Linked DNA regions of Homo sapiens. The protein of the gene in region 2 purifies or fractionates together with the protein of the main gene of each other region. This does not show direct contact. Each region holds a gene or a part of one and is shown on either strand. Other genes may lie near its edges. The genes, in order: PSTPIP2, TRMT5 and SENP8.

Region 1 (3,655 bases), on a different chromosome or scaffold from region 2:
TGTAATTCCAGCTACTCAGGAGGCTGAGGTAGGAGAATCACTTGAGCCCAGGAATTCAAGGCCAGCCTGGGCAACATTGTGAGACCCCCCCATCTCAAAAAAAGTGTCTTTGTAATTGCTTGCTGAATATTTTGATAGTGGATGCTGTAAAATCTTCGTCACATAATTCCAACATCTCTGTTATCTAGATCTTGGCAGCTATTGATTGTCTTTCTTTTCATGGAGTTTCGTATCTTTCTGGTATGAAGAGTGATATTTGATTGATTTGGGGGAATTTTTGGTATTATGTTACAAGACTCTGGATTTTATTTAAGGCTTCTGTTTTAGCTAGCTTCCTCAGGACACCACTCCAGCAGGGGAAGGTGAGGCATCATCTCATTACTGTCATGTGAGTGTGAAAGTCCAGGTTTCCCCTCCTTGGTCTCCACTGACACCACAGAGTGTGTGTGACCCAGTTACTACTGGAAAGTGGTTAAAGTTCTCACTCTCCACTAGACCTCCTTAGACACCATCCCAGGAGGGAGAGGGTGTACATCATTATTTCCCGGTGCAGGTGGAAGTCAGGGTTCCCCACATAGCTCCCAATAACACTGTGTAGAGGAGGCTCTGTTACCTCCTGGTGGGAGTGAAAGTCCTGGTCCCCTATTTGTTCTCTGTTGCCACCTTGGCAGGGGAGTTGGGTGCTCTCTACAGCCTGGTGTGGTGGAAGTTTAGACTCTCCACTTGGCCTTTGCTGATGTGTGGAGGTGGGTCCCCAGGTTTTTTACGTGGTGTTTGGCTGCAGTAGAATGGTTATTTTCTAAAGTTTCTGTCCTGCTAGGCTGCCCCTTTTCTGGTCTTTTGGTTAGAGAGAACAGGTTTTTCTTGGAGCTTTTTATTTATTTTTTTTATTTTTTTAATTTTTGGTCTATGACCATTGGCATTTCTGGGATGCCTGCTTCTTTGGCACTCAGTCTGTGATAAATGAGGCAAAAAGAAAGCCCAGGGAACCCTTGTCAGGTTGTTCTTTGAGTCCAAGGTCACTAGCCAGTGTGCCTTCTTCTCTCCCCCTTTCAGAGTTTTTTTTTTTTTTTTTGAGACAGAGTTTCACTCTTGTTGCCCAGGCTGGAGTATGCAATAGTGCGATCTCGGCTCACCGCAACCTCCACCTCCTGGGTTCAAGCGATTCTCCTGCCTCAACTTCCCAAGTAGCTGGGATTACAGGTGCACACCACCACACCCAGCTAATTTTTTTTTTTTTTGTATTTTTAGTAGAGTCGCGGTTTTGCCATGTTGGCCAGGCTGGTCTCGAACTCCTGACCTCAGGTGATCCACCTGCCTCGGCCTCCCGAAGTGCTGGGATTACAGGTGTGAGCCACTATACCCAGCCAGAAAGTTATATTTTGATAAGCCTTTCTCTTTAATTATAAAAAATCTTGCCCCAGATTGTTTAAAATATAAAAGGTCTGGGAAAAATCATCTATCAACTAACACTATTTCTGTATTACACTGACATCATTCCCTATTTATCAATTGTTTTTGAGGGATTTCTGCATCAAGGAGAAAAAGAATGCAGCAGAACAGATTGCATATGCTATCAACACTGGTGACACTTCCCTATTACATCCTACTCGTAGAATATCATGATGATACTTCGGTGTCAAGATGGAGTCATATATGTTCTAATAACAGAGTTTGTTGTATCCAGAGTCAACAGATACATAAAAGCTAGAGAGAGATTTCTAGCAACTTGTCCAATCTCTGTCTTGCCAACATTTTTTAAATAAATTACTTAAAGGAAAAGTTTTTATAATTTTCAGATATCTTAAAACAGAAAGGGATCACTCAATAAAATAGGTAAGCAATCAAGATTCAAAATAGTAACAGGGTAAAATTGCAAATTCTATAAGATAAAGGGTATTGTACACTATATATGTTTTTGTATCTTTGCCTAAAATATTTGAACTGACTTGCTATATTTTCTCGGGTTACCAGAAAGATAACCCTGTTGCATTTCCACTATCTAGTGTCACTTTCAATCTTTCCAAGGCCTTAAAAAAAGAAAAACCTTATACACTGTTGGTGGGAGTATAAATTGGTTCAACCATTGTGGAAAGCAGTATGGAGATTCCTCAAAGAACTAAAAGCAGAACTACCATTTGACCCAGCAATCCCATTACTGGGTATACACCCAGAGGAATATAAAGCATTCTACCCTAAAGACACATGCACGTGAATGTTCATTGCAGCACTGTTCATAATAGCAAAGACACGGAATCAACCTAAATGCCAATCAATGACAGACTGGATAAAGAATATGTGGTACATATACACCATGGAATACTATGCAACCATAAAAAAGAATGAAATCATGTCTTTTGAGGAAACATGGATAGAACTGGAGGCTATCATCCTTAGCAAACTAATGCAGGAACAGAAAACCAAATACCACATGTTCTCACTTATAAGTGGGAGCTAAATGATAAGAACTTATGAATATAAAGAAGGAAATAACAGACACTGGGGTCTAATTGAGAGGGAGGGTGAGAGGAGGGAGAGGAGCAGAAAAGATAACTATTGGGTACTGAACTTAATCTCTGGGTAATGTAATAATATGTACAACAACAACAAAAAAGAAAACCCAAAGCATTTAAGGTTGTTTTCCCTAAAACACTGCACTAATAAATAATAACATTTTTGAAATGTTATTTGAGTAGGAATATGTTCATACACAGCACAGGATTTCAGAAAATGTCACCATTATCCCAAAAAAGACAATAAAATGTGACTCACATCCATGGTTTTCTTGAATTGTAAGCTCTTTTGTTTATGGATAGCATCCATTATGAGCTCTGTCTGTAAAGAGATCATAAACACTCTTAATAAAAACACAAATCATTATTAATAAAAACAGAAATCATTATCAATACCAGCTTATCTTGAGGGTTAAGTGTTCAAAATGATTACCCACATTTCACAATCTTCAGAGAAAAGAGACCAAACAATTTGCCTAAGCTCTTATTCCTAGCTAATAACGGGGCCCATCTTTGAACTTGTGCAGGCAAACACCAAAGCCTGAACTCTCAGACACAGTGGAGACTCACTGATCACCTTAGAGCAGTCTCTTCAGTAAAATCTGGAATCAAGGAACTTTGGTTTCAAAAAGGAATTTTAAAACTTTTGTTAAAGTGCCATTTATATTTTAAAAGAGGTCTTTATTCTATAAGTATACATCAGCACAGTTAAATTCGGTACTTGTAAACATTCATTTCTGCAGCCCATCAGTGACACATCCATGACCATCAGGGTGCCCGGGCAGTATGAAGGAAAAAAGAATTTGTAAGACAACTAAAAGAAGCTGTTCTGTTACTCTTTTATTCCATTTTTTTATTTTTTAAGACAGAGTCTCACTCTGTCACCCAGGCTGGAGTGCAGTGGCATGATCTCAGCTGACTACAACCTCTGCCTCCTGGGTTCAAGCAATTCTCGTGCCTCAGCCTCCAGAGTAGCTGGGATTACAAGCCTGCACCACCACACCTGGCTAATTTTTGCACTTTTAGTAGAGATGGGGTTTCACCTTGTTGGCCAGGCTGGTCTCAAACTCCTGACCTCAGGTGATCCACCCAGCTCGGCCTCCCAAAGTGCTGGGATTACAGGTATGAGCCACCATGCCCAG
Region 2 (3,755 bases):
AAATATGAAGACTCACCTAAATCCAAAGACACCGGTATTAGCCAAAACATAAGCTAAGCCAAGGATGCCACTTCCCATGATGGCATTCATCAAATTAAACACTGATAAACCAAATGAAACACCTGGGGATCGCTGTCTGTGAAGTTCCTGTAAGCACACAAATTTAGTAGTGTTAAATGTTTGGACGGTGAAGTTAAAATTTCGTAAAGAAATTCCATAAATGAAAGATTATGGAAAAAAGCTGCAAACCACCAGGGTTTGTATGACACACTCGTTGCTTAACCAACACTAATTTCCTTTCCTTTCCTTCCCACCTCCCACTACTGCAGCTCCAGGAATCTAGGGTTTCTTAGGAAAATGATTTCCACCAGTACACAAGACAGGCAGAGTTCAGGAAGGGCCATGACTAACCTTGTGACTGCAAGAGATGAAGATAGGATGGGAATGGAGTGGGGAGAGAGAGGAGGGATAAGGCCTCAGCTCATGTGATTACTAAAGAATTGCTGAGTCAACCTGGGACTGCTGTGGGCAGTTGTTTCTCCTCAATTACTAGGACTGCACAACTAATCTCTACTTATATATCTAATGAATTAGTTCTACCAAACTGGAAGGATGGTCAGGAATATCTTGCAATGACAATATTATAAACAGAAGCAATTCACGTTGTTCTGGCAGTATCCCTGAAAACATCCCCCTCCCCACAAACAGCACCGGGAACAAAGTCCTGGGAACAGTGTCTAGGACTCGAGTTAAAAAGCGGAGTGCCCACTGCACAGGCTTTAGGGTCAGGAACGTGCTATGCACTTACTACCAAGCCACTTCCATTCTACCGCTAAGAATTTCTGTATTAAAATGTTTATTATTTTCCCTCCCCCCATGACTAAGTCGGAAGAGGAAAATCCTGTGACTCTTGCAAAGACCTCACGAGACTGGTGGAGAAAATAAGGTGACAAAAATACTAACTAACAGCAGTGAGTACATAATCCTAGGGCCGCTCATCCCATCATGTTCGCAGCTTCCACTCAACGCTGCATCTCTTCCACCCGACGCTTTTCATCTTTTCTTTCTAGAGTATGCTAGGCTGCTATCACGTTCATAACTGCGCCAATCTCATCTGAATCTCGGCGGCTGCCTTCAGACCCCATCCCCCAGGGTTCAGGCTCCAGCATCTCCCCTGTCCCGGTGCGGTCCTCCTTTTCTGGGTCTTATTTGGCAGGCACTTGAGGGAAGCCGGAGGGCGTCAGCGCGGGGAAGCGAACACAGCCCACTTACGTTGCTTAGCAACGGACTCAACTCTTCGGCCTCCGCTTCTTCAGGCTGCTGGACAGAGACATACCAGCCCCGCTCAGCGTTGAAGCTCCCCCAGGACGCCTCCATGCTGCTCTCCAGCTGACTACCAGTTCCATCTACGAGCCTCTACCCCTGCCCTGCGCTCCAGTCGTCGGTCGCGCCAGAGGCGGAGCTTTGAGCCCGGCCCTTCCGGCATTCCGTACTTCACCAGGGCCTGGAAGGAGAGGAGCGAGTCGACTTGATCTGATGACGCGCGCCCTCTTCGCGGCGAACAGTGATGATGTCATAGAAGACCCGCCCATCCACCCGCGACCCACATCCGATCGGTACCGGAGCGGGAGGTGAGGGGTCGGCTCGCGGATCCAGCTGCAGAGCGACGTGGGGAATTGGAATGGTGCTTTGGTGAGGTGGCGGCCGCGTTAGGGGCTAATGGTCCAGGGGAGGTACCAGCCCGCCCAGGGCTGCTCTCTGCCATGTGCTGCCTGGGCACAGAAACATCGCGAGGTCACCCACCCGCCTAGGTGCTGAGCTTAGTTTCGAGGTTCTGGATAGTAAGGAATGTTTCAAAAGCCTTTCGCCACATTTTACTGGTGGGAAAACCGAGACTTATAGTAATTTATCCAGGGTCACCCAGCTGGTCAGCTGCTAGAACCAATTTGATCTCTGACGGTGAAGTTAGACTTCGTTGCTTTACAGGATTCTGGGACAGGGCCCTTTCCCCTTACAAGTAAATTCTTTGGTATTTTAGAAGACAGTGAATAACTGATACTATGCATATAACAATCAGCAAAGCTCTCGTCCTCAAAATACAGAAGCCTCTAGTTAAAGGCAGGACATGTGGCAGTAAAGCATCGAAAACAAACAACAGAGCAATATATTAAGAACACAAGCACCGAAGTCAGTCAAAACTAGGTTTTAATCCATGTTTAGCCACTTATCAGCTGGGAGACTTTGGGTGGGTTACCTTACGTCTGAGCTTTAGTTTACTTATTTACAAAATGAGGGTGCAATACTGCACACCTCCCAAGATTCATAATGTACATAAAGCATTTAGCGCAGTATCTGACACAATAAGCACCCATGAGACTATCCTAATAAATATCACCACTAGTAATGGTCATGTATAATGACTATTTCATTTACAGATGACCATTTAACTCATACTTCAGTCTTCCAATCCCAAATGTATTATCTAGAAAATTGTGGGTGAAGAGGATCATTGAGTATGGCTAATGGATCACTAAGCCCTCTGAACTGGGAGCAGATGGGTTGAAGGTGTAAATTTAATATATACCACTATTATCTACCACTAATACGACTTCCTGAAGAAGTCATCCTAGTCTGGAAAAGATAGTATACTTCCCACACATCACTAAACGTTTTATTTGTCAGCATTTAGCCCGTTATTTGAGATAGTAGAATTTAGATTTTTATTCTCAAAAGCTGTCGTGTGTGAATTTTTTTTTTTTTTTTTTAAGGATCTTATGGAGGCCATTTGGATTCTCAGGAAGATTTCTGAAACTGGAAAGCCATAGCATAACTGAATCAAAATCGTTGATTCCAGTAGCTTGGACATCCCTGACACAGATGCTTTTGGAAGCACCTGGTATTTTCTTATTGGGTCAAAGAAAAAGATTCTCAACCATGCCAGAAACAGAAACACATGAGAGAGAGACTGAATTGTTTTCACCACCTTCTGATGTCCGAGGCATGACAAAACTTGATAGAACAGCTTTTAAAAAGACAGTCAACATTCCAGTGCTTAAAGTGAGGAAAGAAATAGTCAGTAAATTGATGCGATCCCTAAAAAGGGCAGCATTGCAGCGCCCAGGCATAAGACGTGTGATTGAAGATCCGGAAGATAAAGAAAGTAGACTAATCATGTTGGATCCCTATAAAATATTTACTCATGATTCCTTTGAGAAAGCAGAACTCAGTGTTTTAGAGCAGCTTAATGTCAGTCCACAGATCTCTAAATACAATTTGGAACTAACATATGAACACTTTAAGTCAGAAGAAATCTTGAGAGCTGTGCTTCCTGAAGGTCAAGATGTAACTTCAGGGTTTAGCAGGATTGGACATATTGCACACCTAAACCTTCGAGATCATCAGCTGCCTTTCAAACATTTAATTGGTACGTGTGTCATAGTAATATTCATGTATTTGAAGGGAATTTGCAAATTGTTAATTTTAGCTTTAAAAATTATTTTTTTTAATGCCAAGTTACAGAGGCAGAACATTTTATCATGTTAACTTTAAGCTAGATCTTGAGCTACATACCCTCTTTTGAGGGCCATTTTGAAATATCTTCTTTAGTCATAGCAAGTTCCAAATACTGGTCCAGGCTTTTGTGTACAACAATACATCAGTGTAGATTAAACTTGAATCACATGCTTTGGCAGCTACATTGAGGAGAGATCTTTTTGGTACACAAGACTTGTTAGGCCTTCAGGGCTATGTTAAAT
Region 3 (3,655 bases), on a different chromosome or scaffold from region 2:
AAAGGGGGAAAAATTAAAGCACAATATCAAAAGGTAGAAGGAAAAAGGCAAAAAAGTATTAATCCTATTTCTTAAAATGATATTTACACTTGATGGATATCGTTCTTGATTATTTTTCTGTATATTTTTATCATATACAGATGTTTATATCAAAGCATATTATGAACATTTTTCTTTTAATAAATTTGTATTGACAATATTATATTTAATGGCTGAAAACTATTCCATCGTGTGGAAACCCTGTTGTTTAATTTACCAGTCCTTTTTTGAACTCCAGATTGTTTCCAGTTTTTCTGTTACAAATACTGCCATGGTGAATATCTTGTTGAATTTTTGCACACATTGTTAATGTCTCCCTTAAGTTAAATTTCTTAAAGTATAATACCTACATATATAAATTTCTTAAGAATTCCAATATAATGGCAAATTACCCTTGAAAAAGCTTGCATGTATGACAGTCCTATCAAAATGGGGCATCATTTACTCATTTCCCATAATCTCTCAGCAATGCTAATTATTATTAGTTTTCTTCACCTTTGCTAACTTGACAGGTAAAAAAATGAAATTTTATTTTAACTTACATTTATTTGATTACTACTCTGATGTCCAGTGTCTTTTCATGTGTTTATTGACTAGTCATGTAAGTGTATTAACTAATATTTTCTAACAATTTTTTTTTTACTTTTTAACATTTAAATTTGTATTCTATCTAAAATATAATTTGATGTAAGGTATGAGGTAAAACTCTTTACTTTTTTAATCAAATAATTAACAAGTTGTGCCAATGCTACTTATTAAAAAATCCAGCAAGCATATCCCATACTTCAATATACAGATAATAAAGTACTGATAGATATTCCTCCAAAAAAAAGAAAGACTATTTCGTGGTTAAATAAGTTTGGGAAAAGATCATACGAAAAAAAGTTAAAATTTTTTATCGCCAAACTCTCGTTAGCCTCTAGTGTGTGTGTGTGCATTAGGAGTTAGCATTTCCTAATTTAATTAACCATGTAATCTTTTTTCTTTTTTATTTATTTATTTATTTTATTTATTTATTTTTTTGAGATGGAGTCTCACTCTGTCGCCCAGGCTGTAGTGCAGTGGGGTGATCTCGGCTCACTGCAACCTCTGCCTCCCAGGTTCAAGCAATTCTCCTGCCTCTACCTCCCAAGTAACTGAGATTACAAGTATGCACTACCATATCCAACTTGTTTTGTATTTTCAGTAGAGATGGGGTTTTGCCATATTGGCCAGGCGGGTCTCAAGCTCCTGACCTCAGGTGATCTGCCTGCCTTAGCCTCCCAAAGTGCTGGGATTACAGGTGTGAGCTATTTTTTTTAACCATGTAATCTCACTTCATAGGTATTTCAGGAAATACCTATGAAAGCCTGTGGAACTGAGCTGTCCAGTATACTAGCACTAGCCACATGTGGCTATTTAAATTTTAGTTAATTAAAATTACTCAGTTCTTCAGTCACACTGACCATATTTCAAGAACTCAATAGCCACAAGGGGCTAGTGGCTACTGTATTGAACATTTTGCAGATAAAAGAAAATTTCCGGGCCAGGCACAGTGGCTGATGCCTGTAATCCCAGCACGCTGAGAGGCCGAGGTGGGTGGATCACAAGGTCAGGAATTCAAGACCAGCCTGGCCAAGCTGGTGAAACCCTGTCTCTACTAAAAAACTACAAAAAATTAGCCAGGCACAGTGGCAGTTGCCTGTAATCCCAGCTACTCGGGAGGCTGAAGCAGGAGAATCGCTTGAACCCAGGCAGCAGAGGTTGCAGTGAGCCGAGATTGCGCCACTACACTCCAGCCGGGGCGACGGAGTGAGACTCCATCTCAAAAAATAGGAAAATTTCCGTCACAAGAAGTGCTATTGGACAGCACTGCTATGGGAACATAATGTTCAGTGGAACACGTGAACACGCTGAAAACACTGGAATAATCCATAATTTCTCCTGATTTGTCAGGCAAACATGATTACTACTACACTATGAGAACAGACTCTCTCATTGATTTGTAAAGACTCCATCATCATATTTAAAATTTCTAATCTACATATGATTTTTTTATGCTATTGATTTATCTACTTCTGCTCCAATACCACACCCCTAGTTTTAAGTCAAGGTTCTGCACCTTTCTCTTTCAGAGCAGAAATGAAGAATTCTTGCATGGAGTAGGAAATTAGATTAGAAGTGATAGTAAAGGCGCTTTCACTTCCCAGACTCTAAATGTAAACATTTCTCTGCCGAACTTGATTTATATTATGTTGAGCTGTATACTCAATTACTTATTCATTTATTCTACAATTATTTATTGAGTACCTGCCTGGTAAGCACTGTTTTAGGTCCTGGGGTTAAAATGGCAAACAAGGCAGACAAGGCCCCTCGTCGTCTTATTTTCATAGAGCTTACATTCTTGTTTTGGAGAGGGAAAGAGAAGAGGCAGGGGGAGGAAAAAAGAATATGAACCAATAAACAAATAAATTAAAAAACTATCACATAGTAATCAGTGCTATTCAAGGAATTGAAATTAGAGTGATAGTAACTGGTGGCCTCTTTGTTTTGGCTGCCCTGAGACCTCTGTGACTTAGTGGCATTTAAACTAAGATCTGTCCAAAGAAGAAGCTAATTACTAGAAGGTCCAGGCAGAGCTAGTACCACCCTCAGGAGGGAAAAAGCTTGGTGTATTTGAGGAGTAAAAAGAAAGTCTTTGTGGCTGGGTCTTAGTGGGCAAGCAGGGAAATAATAGGAGATAAGGTTGGAGAAATAGCTGAAGCCACATTTTCATGTAGGGTTTTGTAAACTAGGGTAGGGAATTTTCATTTTTTTCTGAGTATGATAGCTACTAGAGACTCCTAAGCAGGGAACAGACCTGGCCTAATTTAAATTTTTAAACAATTATTTTGATGGAGAATTTATTGGCACAGTCAGTAGTGGAAATAGGAGACCTGTTAGGCTAGGTCAAGAAAGAAATGGTGATAGATTTGACTAAGGTGATAGTAGTGAAGATGGAAAGCATTGGACAGATTTAGAACATTTAGGCTATAGAATCAACAGGACTTGTCAATTGGATGTGAAGTGTGAAGACAATAGAAAACTCTGGGATGAGCCTGGGCAACATAGTGAGACCCTGCCTCTATAAAAAAAAATATTAATTAGCCAGACATGGTGGTATGCACGTATAGTGCATATAGCTACTTGGAAGGCCAAGGTGGGAGGATCACTTGAGCCCATCAGTTAAAGGCTGCAGTGAGCTATGATTGCACCACTGCACTCCATCCTGGGCAACAGAGTGAGACGTTTTCAAAGAAAGAGAGAGGGAAAGGGGAGAGGGGAGAGAGGGAGGGGAGGGGAAGAAGAAAAAACAGAGAGAGAGAGAAAGAAAAAAACTAACTCTTGGATGATGTCTGTAATCCATTATATAGTAACCAGGTTCAATTTTCAGTCTGATTATGGCAGGCAAAATTGGGACACATAAGACACCAATAAATATATTTTAACCAAATGAATAAATTTACTTTAATAAATGTTTCTCTCCTGTACACATTTAAGCTGCTAAAGCATAAGCTTGTGCTCATTCCTTTATTATTAGGGAATCTGACTCCTAAGAATTTGAGGTTTATGTCATAAACACATCAGCTATAGGTAA

What was found.
Region 1: the proteins of TRMT5 (region 2) and PSTPIP2 fractionate together in Homo sapiens (co-fractionation; one large-scale study listed by BioGRID). This does not show direct contact.
Region 3: the proteins of TRMT5 (region 2) and SENP8 fractionate together in Homo sapiens (co-fractionation; one large-scale study listed by BioGRID). This does not show direct contact.

What each region holds. Positions count from the first base shown.
Region 1 is NC_000018.10:46,002,697-46,006,351, forward strand, and holds part of PSTPIP2 (proline-serine-threonine phosphatase-interacting protein 2), read right to left. Parts: intron 2,836-3,655; coding exon 2,773-2,835; intron 1-2,772. UniProt on the Homo sapiens protein: Binds to F-actin. May be involved in regulation of the actin cytoskeleton.
Region 2 is NC_000014.9:60,978,900-60,982,654, reverse strand, and holds the start of TRMT5 (tRNA (guanine(37)-N(1))-methyltransferase), read left to right. Parts: upstream 1-1,631; 5' UTR 1,632-1,681; coding exon 1,682-1,692; exon of another isoform or gene 1,693-1,719; coding exon of another isoform or gene 1,720-1,811; intron 1,812-2,768; coding exon 2,769-3,424; intron 3,425-3,755. Other genes in the region: SLC38A6 (solute carrier family 38 member 6), read right to left, coding at 17-147, 1,273-1,377. UniProt on the Homo sapiens protein: Involved in mitochondrial tRNA methylation. Specifically methylates the N1 position of guanosine-37 in various tRNAs. Methylation is not dependent on the nature of the nucleoside 5' of the target nucleoside.
Region 3 is NC_000015.10:72,124,780-72,128,434, forward strand, and holds part of SENP8 (sentrin-specific protease 8), read left to right. Parts: intron 1-3,655. UniProt on the Homo sapiens protein: Protease that catalyzes two essential functions in the NEDD8 pathway: processing of full-length NEDD8 to its mature form and deconjugation of NEDD8 from targeted proteins such as cullins or p53.